Regions from separate parts of the Homo sapiens genome. Here region 1 is reported to be linked to region 2. The links are microRNA targets in miRTarBase. Many come from high-throughput screens and were not tested one by one. Region 2 holds a microRNA gene; the other region holds the end of a gene's coding sequence.
The links. The annotated mature microRNA hsa-miR-3121-3p reads UAAAUAGAGUAGGCAAAGGACA and lies in region 2 at 2,768-2,789, shown strand. An mRNA with a match to its seed (bases 2 to 7 or 8) in the 3' UTR can be bound and repressed. Matches are read on the target gene's strand: a 7mer-m8 pairs with bases 2 to 8, a 7mer-A1 pairs with bases 2 to 7 and ends in A, and an 8mer does both.

Region 1: the mRNA of MFSD6 is a reported target of hsa-miR-3121-3p. Seed matches in the 3' UTR shown: 7mer-A1 at 3,742-3,748.

What each region holds. Positions count from the first base shown.
Region 1 is chr2:190,499,725-190,504,799 of GRCh38, reverse strand. MFSD6 (major facilitator superfamily domain containing 6) reads right to left here. Exons shown (of 8, transcript NM_017694.4): 8 at 2,486-4,785. The coding sequence ends at 4,582. NEMP2 (nuclear envelope integral membrane protein 2) reads left to right here. Exons shown (of 9, transcript NM_001142645.2): 9 at 1-462. Among named protein-coding and RNA genes, the nearest start is that of NEMP2, 32 kb to the left of the region's middle.
Region 2 is chr1:180,436,037-180,441,111 of GRCh38, reverse strand. MIR3121 (microRNA 3121) reads left to right here and starts at 2,722; the gene lies at 2,722-2,798. The region is part of intron 3 of ACBD6 (acyl-CoA binding domain containing 6); the gene reads left to right. It also overlaps the pseudogene VDAC1P4.

The DNA.
Region 1 (5,075 bases), not on the chromosome of region 2:
TTCTAAGATGCCAGTGATCTTTTCAGGAAACAAAAAAAATCCGACCTTTTTTCAAATGTAAGTTTACAATTTAAAAGAATAGCATCCTACACTGACTATTGGAGAGAGTATGGTATATAATTTGTTAAATGATTATAAAATTGTTTACTTTTGTTGACACCTTTAAGAAGAAAAAGAAAAATGAAAATTATGAAACTTATAACCTCTCTCAGCAGACTTTTGCACTTTATGGAATTGTCACCATCATCACTTTTTTCCATCCTCTTCAACTTAAGTTTTGCTTAATTTTGTCTCTTAACTAACTCATATCCCCAACCACTTAATGTTTACAATGCATGTTGGAATTGAATGCCTTACTGTACAGCTTACTAGATATAGGTAAATATGTATAGTATGGCACTGTAGATTGGGAGAATGGAATATGATTATAGATTTAAATGGCAATAAAATAATAGAACTAGACCCTGGTTGGGGAAATGAGACAGCGCTCCTCCTGCCCCGGGCTCTTTGCTGCACAACAATGGCAGTATTTATGGAGCACACACTGTATGTCAGATAACTCATTTTAAACATCAACCTGTTACATACCTACTGTAATCACTTCCGTTTTACAGAGGTGGGTCCTGAGGCCCAGAGATGTTCTATGTGTGTGTAAGTTCTCACTGGCAGAGCTGGGACTCAAATGCAAACAGTGTGACTCCAGGGCGCACACTCCTAACCCCAACATTGTAAGGTCCTTGGGTTGCCATCTAAAAACTGGGACTTTCCTGGAGCCACAGTGGGGGACAAGTGGTCCTATATTAGCTGCTTGAAGCAGATGGCAGCTGGTTGAGAGTTAGGTACACAGCTGGACTGGCACTTAGCCGGACTGGCTCACTTTCCCCCCATGTTAGACATCAGCAAGTTTCCAGTTACTCCCTTATAAGAAGCCACAGTTTGTCCTGGCATAGTGTAAATTACTTTCTGAGATCTGACAAACCACTCCCCCTTTCACCCCTTTTCTGTCCCCACCTAGGCACCAGCCTCTCTCCCAACTGCCCCATGGTTTGGAATTCTTAAGCCAGATATTCTCAAGGCTTTGCTAAACAAGCCCAGGAGTGGTTTGGGGCTTCAGAAGTAGCCTTTGTCTTGTCTCCATGCTCCAAAGGGCTGAAGAACTTCCAAATGGAAAATCACCTCTTTCTTCCCTACAGTCACTGTCAAAGCATACCTTCATTTTCATAGAATCAACATAACCTTAAGCTCTAACCTCTCACACTGAAGCTGAGGAAACAGGCCCAGAGATCTCCCGAAAGGATCTCTTCCTGTATACCCGTGCTGTCCAGTATGGTAGCCTTGAGCCACGTGTGGCTATTTAAAATTAATTAGAAACCTAATTCCCCAGAAAATTAGCCACATGTCAGTTGTTTAATAGCCACATATGGCTTATGGTTACCATCCTGGACAGTGTAAATAGAGAACTTCCCATCTTCCCAGTAAGTCCTACCGGACAGTACAGAGCTGTGGGTGTGTCTGCTTTCCCTTCCTGATTTCCATGGCCCTGGCCAGAGTCCCTACCAACCTCTGGGTTTCCTGTGCAGTTATCAGTCCAGCCAACTCACCTGCAGAGTGTAAAGGGTCTGGTGTACCTACATTTCACAAAGCATCAGGAATTTGAAGCATTTCTAGGAATCTAGGAATATCTAGAAATCCTAAATGGAAATACAACCACACACATACACATATCAGGCATGTATGGTAATGGTTCAGGCTGGGCTGCTTTATGGCTTCCTCTGCCATAACAGATGCAGGGAATGGCCTCCCTGCCTCCTGGGGTGGGGTAAGGTGCTAAGCGGACCAGGGCTTTGACATTAGGAAGATTTGAGTTTGAATCCTGGCTTTGTGACCTTGATCTCATAACTTAAACTGTTAGCTTCAGAATTCTCTTGTTTAAAATGGGGATAGTGATAGGAACACCTCCAGTTTTTGTTAAGGGCAAAATGATAATCTCATCAGCACACTACAAGCACCCAATATCCACGGATGTGGTTCCCTTTTCCTAGATTCCCTGCTGAACTCCAAATTGGCAGAGAGGAATATTGCCTAAGTAATGGTCTCAGTACCTCAGCAGTACTGGAAGGAATTGCCAATTAGAGGGAAGCTATTAGCCAGCTATCCACTTCATGTGACCCATGGCAGGATTAATAAGCCAGTAAAGCAGGGTTGCTCTTCCTGTGAATTCCTTAACACTTTTCATGAGGTTTACTGCCTGCTGGACAATGTATGTATTATAATCTATTCCTAAAACTTGAGGAATAGTTCAATAATTAGCAGTTAACCACTTTGGATCCACACAAGCTCAGCACTCGGTAATTTACTGTTTCTACAACCATAGGAGAAAGAGTAGGAAGTAAGTCATTAAGGCAGTGATTACCAGCCTGGGCTCTGTGACACCCCTGTGTGTGTTGAGGGATCTCAAGAGGGGTTACAAAATCTCAAATCAAAATGTAATTTGAATTCACTTTAATATTTTTTAAGGTAGCATATGGCACTTTGGGGACAGGAAGAAAAAGTCACAAAGTCCACAAACCCATGAAGGTGTCAGCTCACAAGGCTGGAAATGACTGCATTATCGATTCTGCTGTCACAGTAAATGTTCCATAACAAAGGCATGTTGAATTTGGTCTCATTCATTAGAGTATAGGACTTTTGTTTGGTCACATCTTTATCATTTAAGAAACATTTAAAAATGGTATTCATTTTTATTTCAACATGTCAACTGTGCATTTCCAAAACAGCAGGCTTTTCAAAGGAATAAATCAGAACTGTAAACACAAGATACAGTACAAGTTTTTGACTTCCTACAGTCAGTTTCACAAATCCACATACTGTACATTCATAGGTGAGGTTAAGCCTGTCACCCATTTCTTTATTTCTATAATTACACAAGCATAATAAATACATCTGATTTTAAAGGTCACTTAAAATGAGTCATAATTTACAGTACAGTACGTTTCAGTTCAAGTGCAAAAAATAACTATTTGCTGAATTCTATTTCTTTCAGTTATTTTATTTTTAAGCTGTGTTTTATTGTGAAGCGAGACATCCAAGTGTAGAATTTCTTATCCCAAATGCAGTATTGGGCAGAACTATGGTGTCATGGAGAAGCCCTCACTTTACAATTGATCCTGTCTAATCAGGGTCAGAGGGTAAGGTGAGTTGCTCATTTCGACTGTTCTTTTCTTTCCTCTCTCTCCTGTGCTCATCCACAGCTATTATAAATTATATAATTCACCTTTATTCAGCTAAAACAGTTTTCCCTTTTCCACACTCCCCCCAGGTTTCCTGTTAACCTCTGCTTTGATTTTTAGTGGCAAGCTTTACGTGCGATCCACCCAGCCATTGTTCTGGCTGCAGTTGTAACGTTTGCAGTTGCATACATTACATTGTCCAGTGTCTGACTGTGTCTTCATGAGAACGAATATACTGAGATTTTCTTTCTTTAGTCATTGGAAAGTATAGTTGCTACTTATTGCCATCCTTCCCATTCATGGTTTCCTATTTACCACCTTTTCCTCACCAAAAACAAAACAAAACTGACCCAATATGTAATTTCTAAAAATTGTATCCTTCCCCCAGGCACTTAAATCTTATACTGTGATTTGTAACTAGTACTGCTTATTTAAGGAACTCTTAGGAATTCAGTGATTTTTGTGTGTTTCATTCCCTCAGCTAATTAGAGCCTGAATTACTATAAGATAGTAAATAGCGAGAGAGGCTATTTACAGTATCAATATATTTAGTAAACTCTTGTCTATCAAAACACAGGATACTGAGTTGGTTGGTTGATTTGAAATAATCGCTTGTTTCTGTTTTTTTTCTCAAAGCCCATTTAAAACAAAAGGCATTTTTAAGCTCGGCTTAGCTTGCAGTAGTTAATAATAGCTTCTGTTGCTCAAAGAATTATTTCCATTATATGCCATACACATATAAAAATATATTTGCTAAAGATATGTAAAGTTTCTGATGAAACTTTTAACTTCATTTTTTAACTTTAACTTTTAACTTTATTTTTAACAAAAGCACATGTGCTACTTTTATCTGGTTACTTTTTAAATATATCTTGTAATTTTTTAAACGGTTCTCTCCAAGAAAAAAGAAAGTATAGATGAATTCTATCTCTTCCCAGTTTGTGTTAGGAACCAAATAAGAATAAATAATCAGAAGAGGGAAATTATATCCACATTCACCTCGAAACACTTTCATTCCCTCCACTTACTTAGTGTAACTGCCGGTTTCAACTCTTACTGCACTGGCAGAGAAATTCTATCATCCTTAACCTAACCAAGCAAAGAACTGAAAGTCCTCATTGAACTCCATTTCCCTGTTGTAATTCCAATGAGATTACGAAAGTTTACCTTTTCCTGCCAATATGTACTGTAGCTCCTGTGTGTGTGTTTCCATGTTAATGAGTTTAGATATTTAGAAGCATATGCAGTGCTGTGCTCCTCCAGGGGAGGCATATCCTGGCTGGGGGGCCTCACCCTGTGTCCTGGCTGAGGAGCCTGATTCCATGCAGGGTGTGAGATGAGCAGGATGCCCTCAGTGTCCTCCCGCGGCCAGCTGAGCCTGCTGCTCTTCACTCTCCTCTGTGCACGGGTCCACACTGGGGTGAGCGGGGCTGGTCTGCGTCTGAGATGCTGCTGCGTCAGGGGATGGCTGGTTTCTAGATGGGTCAGAGTGAGTCTCACATGGGACAGGCTGGGCTCTACCAGCAGGAGAATTTTCCCTATTCTCATTGGTCCCCTGGAGGTAAAAAACAGGAGATGCCCCATGATCAGTGATAGCAAATAAATCCAACTTTTTATATATGCTTTCAAGTAAGACAGGAAACATGGGGAGATCATCCGGAAGTGCCCATTTCAGGGACCAAGTAATAGAGGAATAAGGATAGAATGTCTTACCTTTCATCTCCTTTCCTATGTGCAACTGCCAGAGCCGCATGAAAAACACAAACACTATAAGCAGACGTGTCTTGTGGAAAAAGGAACATTACTACCAAAATGTCTGTTAGTACTTGGTAAACAGTTTACATC
Region 2 (5,075 bases):
TGGTTCCTCAAAAAGTTAAAAATAGAATTACCAATTCTTTTGGGTATATACAGGAGTGGAATTGCTGGGTAATTTGGTACTCAAATACCTGTATACAAATGATCATAGCAGCAGTATTCACAATAGCCAAAAGTGCAAACAACCCAAATGTCCATTAACTGATGAGTGGATAAGCAAAATTTGGCATTGTTGTATACATATAATAGACTATTAATCATAAAAAGGAATGAAGAACCGATACATGCTATAATATAGATGAGCCTTGAAAACATTAAACCAAGTGAGAGGCCAGACATGAAAGATTACATAGTGTATGATTCAATTTATATGAAATATCCAGAATGGTTAAATCCATAGAGACAGAAAGCAGATTGGTGTTGCCAAGGTTTTGGGGGAGAGGGGAATGGGGAGTGACTGCTTAGTGGGTTCAAGGCTAAAGGTTTGGGGGAGAGGGGAATGGGGAGTGACTGCTTGGTGGGTTCAAGGCTAAAGGTTTGGGGGAGAGGGGAATGGGGAGTGACTGCTTAGTGGGTTCAAGGCTTTTTGGGGGGAATAACAAATATGTTGTGGAACTAGATGCAGTTGGTTGCACAATATTGTGAATGTATTAAATGTCATTCAATTGTACATGTTAAACTGGTTAATTTTATGTGAATCTCATGTCAATACAAAAAGAAGTAAACGTGAAATAAAGACTTTTCAAGGCTGGATCTGGTGGCTCATGCCTGTAATCCCAATACTTTGGGAGGCTGAGATGGGCAGATCACTTGAGGTCAGGAGTTCGAGACCAGGCTGAACAACACATTGCAACCCCATCTCTACTAAAAATGCAAAAATTAGTCGGGTGTCATGGTGGGCATCTGTAATCCCAGCTACTCTGGAGACTGAAGCAGGAGAATCACTTGAACCCAGGAGGCAGAGGTTGTAGTGAGCTGAGATTGCACCACTGCACTCCAGCCTGGGCCACAGAGTGAGACTTCATCTAAAAAATAAAAATAAATAAATAAAAACTTTTTCCAAATAAACAAAAGCAGGTAATTCATTGCCAACTGAACTGAACTATAGTAAATTTTAAAGGAACTTCACATGAAAGGAAAATTATATAAGATGGAAATTTGGACCTCCATAAAGGAATGAAGAGTCCTGGAAGTGCTAAATATATGGGTAAATTTAAAGACTTTTTTTAAATTTTAAAATCTCTTTAAAAGATCACTGAACTTCCAGTTTCAGCCTCAACATGTGAAGAACCTGCAAGTTATCACTCCTCTCCTTAACAATAACAGTAATCTGACCAAACTGAAAATCAAAGACTGTTCTAGATCCATCAGAGATTGAGGTACCAGTTCAAACTGCCATCCCCAAAACTGGAGAGACAGGTGAATACAGAGAATCATAACCAAGATAACAGAAGATGCTTGGGCCATAAACTGGTAGAAACACTTCAATGGTAATGGATGAATTGCTTGAGGCTGAGTGTGGACTAGGGAGTCAAAAACTCCTCCCCAGTATTTTTTTTTTTTTTGAGACGGAGTCTCGCTGTGTCGCCCAGGCTGGAGTGCAGTAGCGCAATCTTGGCTCACTGCAAGTTCTGCCTCCTGAGTTCCACCATTCTCCTGCCTCAGCCTCCTGAGTAACTGGGACTACAGGCGCCCACCACCATGCCCAGCTAATTTTGTTGTTGTTTTATTTTTAGTAGAGACGGGGTTTCACCATGTTAGCCAGGATGGTCTCGATCTCCTGACCTTGTGATCCACCCGCCTCGGCCTCCCCCAGTGCTGGGATTACAGGCGTGAGCCCCCACACCCGGCCCCTCCCCAGTCTTAGTAGGGCCTTCCACTTTGGTAGGTTTTATCTCCCAGAATCCCATTTACGGTAAAGAGTCAAGAAAAATCTTGTGTTTTGGGCCAGGGGAAGGAGCATATAGTTAACACTACTGAGTTAAATACCAAAAATGGTTAAAATGGTAAATTTTATGTTTACAATAATTTAAAATTTTTAAAAAGAAATGAGCTATTAGACCATGAAAAGACATGGAGGAACCTTAAATGCATAATGCTAAGTGAAAGAAGCCAATCTGAAAAGGCTGCATACTGTATGAGTCTAATCATTTGACATTCTGGAAAGAGTAAAACAAAGCAGTGAAAAGATCACTAGTTGCCGTGGGTTCAGAGTATGGAGGAGAGTGGGGAGGGAGGGAAGGGTGAATAGGTAGAGTACGGGATTTTTAGGGCAGTGAAACTATTCTGAATGGTACCGCAGTGGTGGGTACATGTCATTATATGTTTGTCAAACCCATAGAATGTTCAATACAAGAGTGAACCCTAATGTAAACTATGGACTTTCATTAATAATAGTGTATTAATATAGGCTCATCAGCTGTAACAAATGTGCCACTCAATGCAAGATGTTAGTAATGGGGGCAGTGGGTGGGAGAGTTGTATACATGTGAGAGGTATGAGATAACCCTATTTTTTGTTCATTTTTCTGTAAACCTAAACTTGCTTTAAAAAGAAGTCTAAATAAAAAAGAAAAAAGAACTATACTTATTTTTTTTGAACTACCACGTAACTCTTAATTAGTAGTCTTTATTTCACAGCAAATAATTACCAAGTGGACCATAGCTATCTCTTCCCAATTGTCTATTTCACTTTAAGAGAGTCAATGAATGGCGCCAATAGAAGCTATGATTGTCTCATGAACAACCTTGTCTTATTGCTTCTTAAATGGTTATGTCCTTTGCCTATTCTATTTAAGACACCCTGTACCTTAAATAGAGTAGGCAAAGGACAGAAACATTTTAAGTTCTCTAACACAGCAGTCCCCACCCTTTTTGGCACCAGGGACTGGTTTAGTGGAAGACCATTTTTCTGCAGCAGGGATTAGGGGGCCAGTGTTGGAGGGGGATGGTTTCAGGATTAAACCATTTGACTTCAGATCATCAGGCATTAGATTCTCATAAGGAGTGCGTAACCTAGACCCCTCACATGTGCAGTTCACAATAGTCTTCACAGTCCTGTGAGACTCTAATGCTATTGCTGATCTCACAGGAGGTGGAGCTCAGGTGGTAATGCTTGCTCAACCGCCACTCATCTCCTGCTGTGCGGCCAGGTTCCTGACAGGCCATGTATTGCTACTGGCCTGCAGCCCAGGGGTTGGGGACCCCTACTCTAACATTCTGTGCATACCCTCATCATAGGGCCTTTGCACTGGCTTTTTCCTATGGCTGGAACAATCTACTCCAGATACCTGCAAGACTCACTTCTTCACTTCCTTTGTCTTTATTCAAAGGGCCTTCTCTAGAAGGCTTTCCCTAACCATCTTATTCCAAATTATAACCTTGTTCCTGGACCTGTTTTTTTTCTTCATAATACTCCTTAGGTTTTAATATTGGAAAACTTATTCATTTATTGTCTGTCTCTGTCAGACCTAACCTGATTTTTGTGTGACGATTTTGTATCCTGCAACTTTGCTGAATAACAGATTGGGTGGAATCTTTAGGATTTTTTTACATATAAAATCTTGTTGTCTGTGAACAGATAACTTTACCTCTTCCTTTCCAATTTGGATGCCATTTTAGGAAAAACTTTCAAACTGTGTTTTTCCTCTGCTCTCATACCACTACAACAACAGAAGACTTCTGTGACCAAATACGTGGGGATTTCTCCCCAACATTATGTGAGCAGTTCTGCAGCAGACACCAACTGGGTATCCTCCTAATCAGTTCTGACACTAGGTGCCTAGAGATAGTGTCAGATTCCACAGGTTGAGGACTCAGTCCCCAGGACTGCCTCCCACCCCTTGACCAGTCACAAGCCCCGGTCTCCAGAATTTCTTACCAACTGGCTTCAAGTTGTGGTTCCCATGACCCCCTCTTTGGGTTCAACTGAGTTCTGGAGTGGCTTACAGAACTCAGGGAAACACATTTGCCAGTTTATTATAAAGGATGTTACAAAGGATACAGATGAAGATGTCGAGGGAAAAAAGCCAAACTGCAAAGTATTTGAAGAGATTTATTCTGCACCAAATGTGAAGACCATGACCCATGACACAGCCTCAGAAGGTCTTGAGAACATGTACCCAAGCTGATGGGGTTATAGCTTGATTTTATATCCTTTAAGGAGATATGATAGCATTAACATTGGCCTGGATACCATCTTGAATAGAAGTGATGAGAATAGATATCCTTGCCTTGTTCCTGATCTTAGAAGGAAAGCTTTCAGTTTTTCACCACTGAGTATGTTGTTAACTGTGGCCTTTTCATATATGGCCTTTATTATTTTGAGGTAGTTTTGTTTTTGTTTTTGTTTTTTGAGGTTTCAATATTTTATTCAGGTTTTTTTAAAGTGATGTTAATTACAGCATTTGAAGGGGAGGATCTAATTCCACACAAAATGGAAGACTCTAAAATGTACCCATTAAACTGCTAAAAAACAAATTGAGTGGTGAGAATACAACAGAAGTCCAATTTAGATTCTGAGTGTTGTCACCATGTGATTACAATCATACAGACACTTCTAAGCTTATAGGTGGAGCTCCTGGAAGCTATTTCATACTCTGGTGCAAGGGCAAAAAAACACAACGCAAGAAGGAATAAGTCCTGAATTATTGGCTTTATCACGTCCACCCTCTCCACCCCAAAATGGCACAAAAGAATCGTGACCACACCACTCTGCAGACGTTTTGGTGTAAAAGAGGTGACGATGAACTGGGGTGGGAACAGGTCATGAAGATATGTCTAAAAAAAATCCCATTCAGGTGAGTTTGTACACACCATCAAGTAGTGAGCTTCTCATCAATTAGGGTTAGATAAACAAGGTTCAATTCTCAGGAAATCACAATTTCTTTCATTTACTCAATATGAATTTACAAAGTGCCTACATATTATCAGCTTCCACTTGCAGCCATTTCTAGATAAAAAAGAAACCTGATATCTCAAAGGGGCCACCAAGTTACCCCCAAGTCTACCACTGAAAGGACCTTTTTTGGAAATGGTTTTCTTCTGTACCTCTGAAAGGGTAACATCTTAAAGCTGAATCATCTTTAACCTGGAGGTCTAACATATTTAGCAATACTTG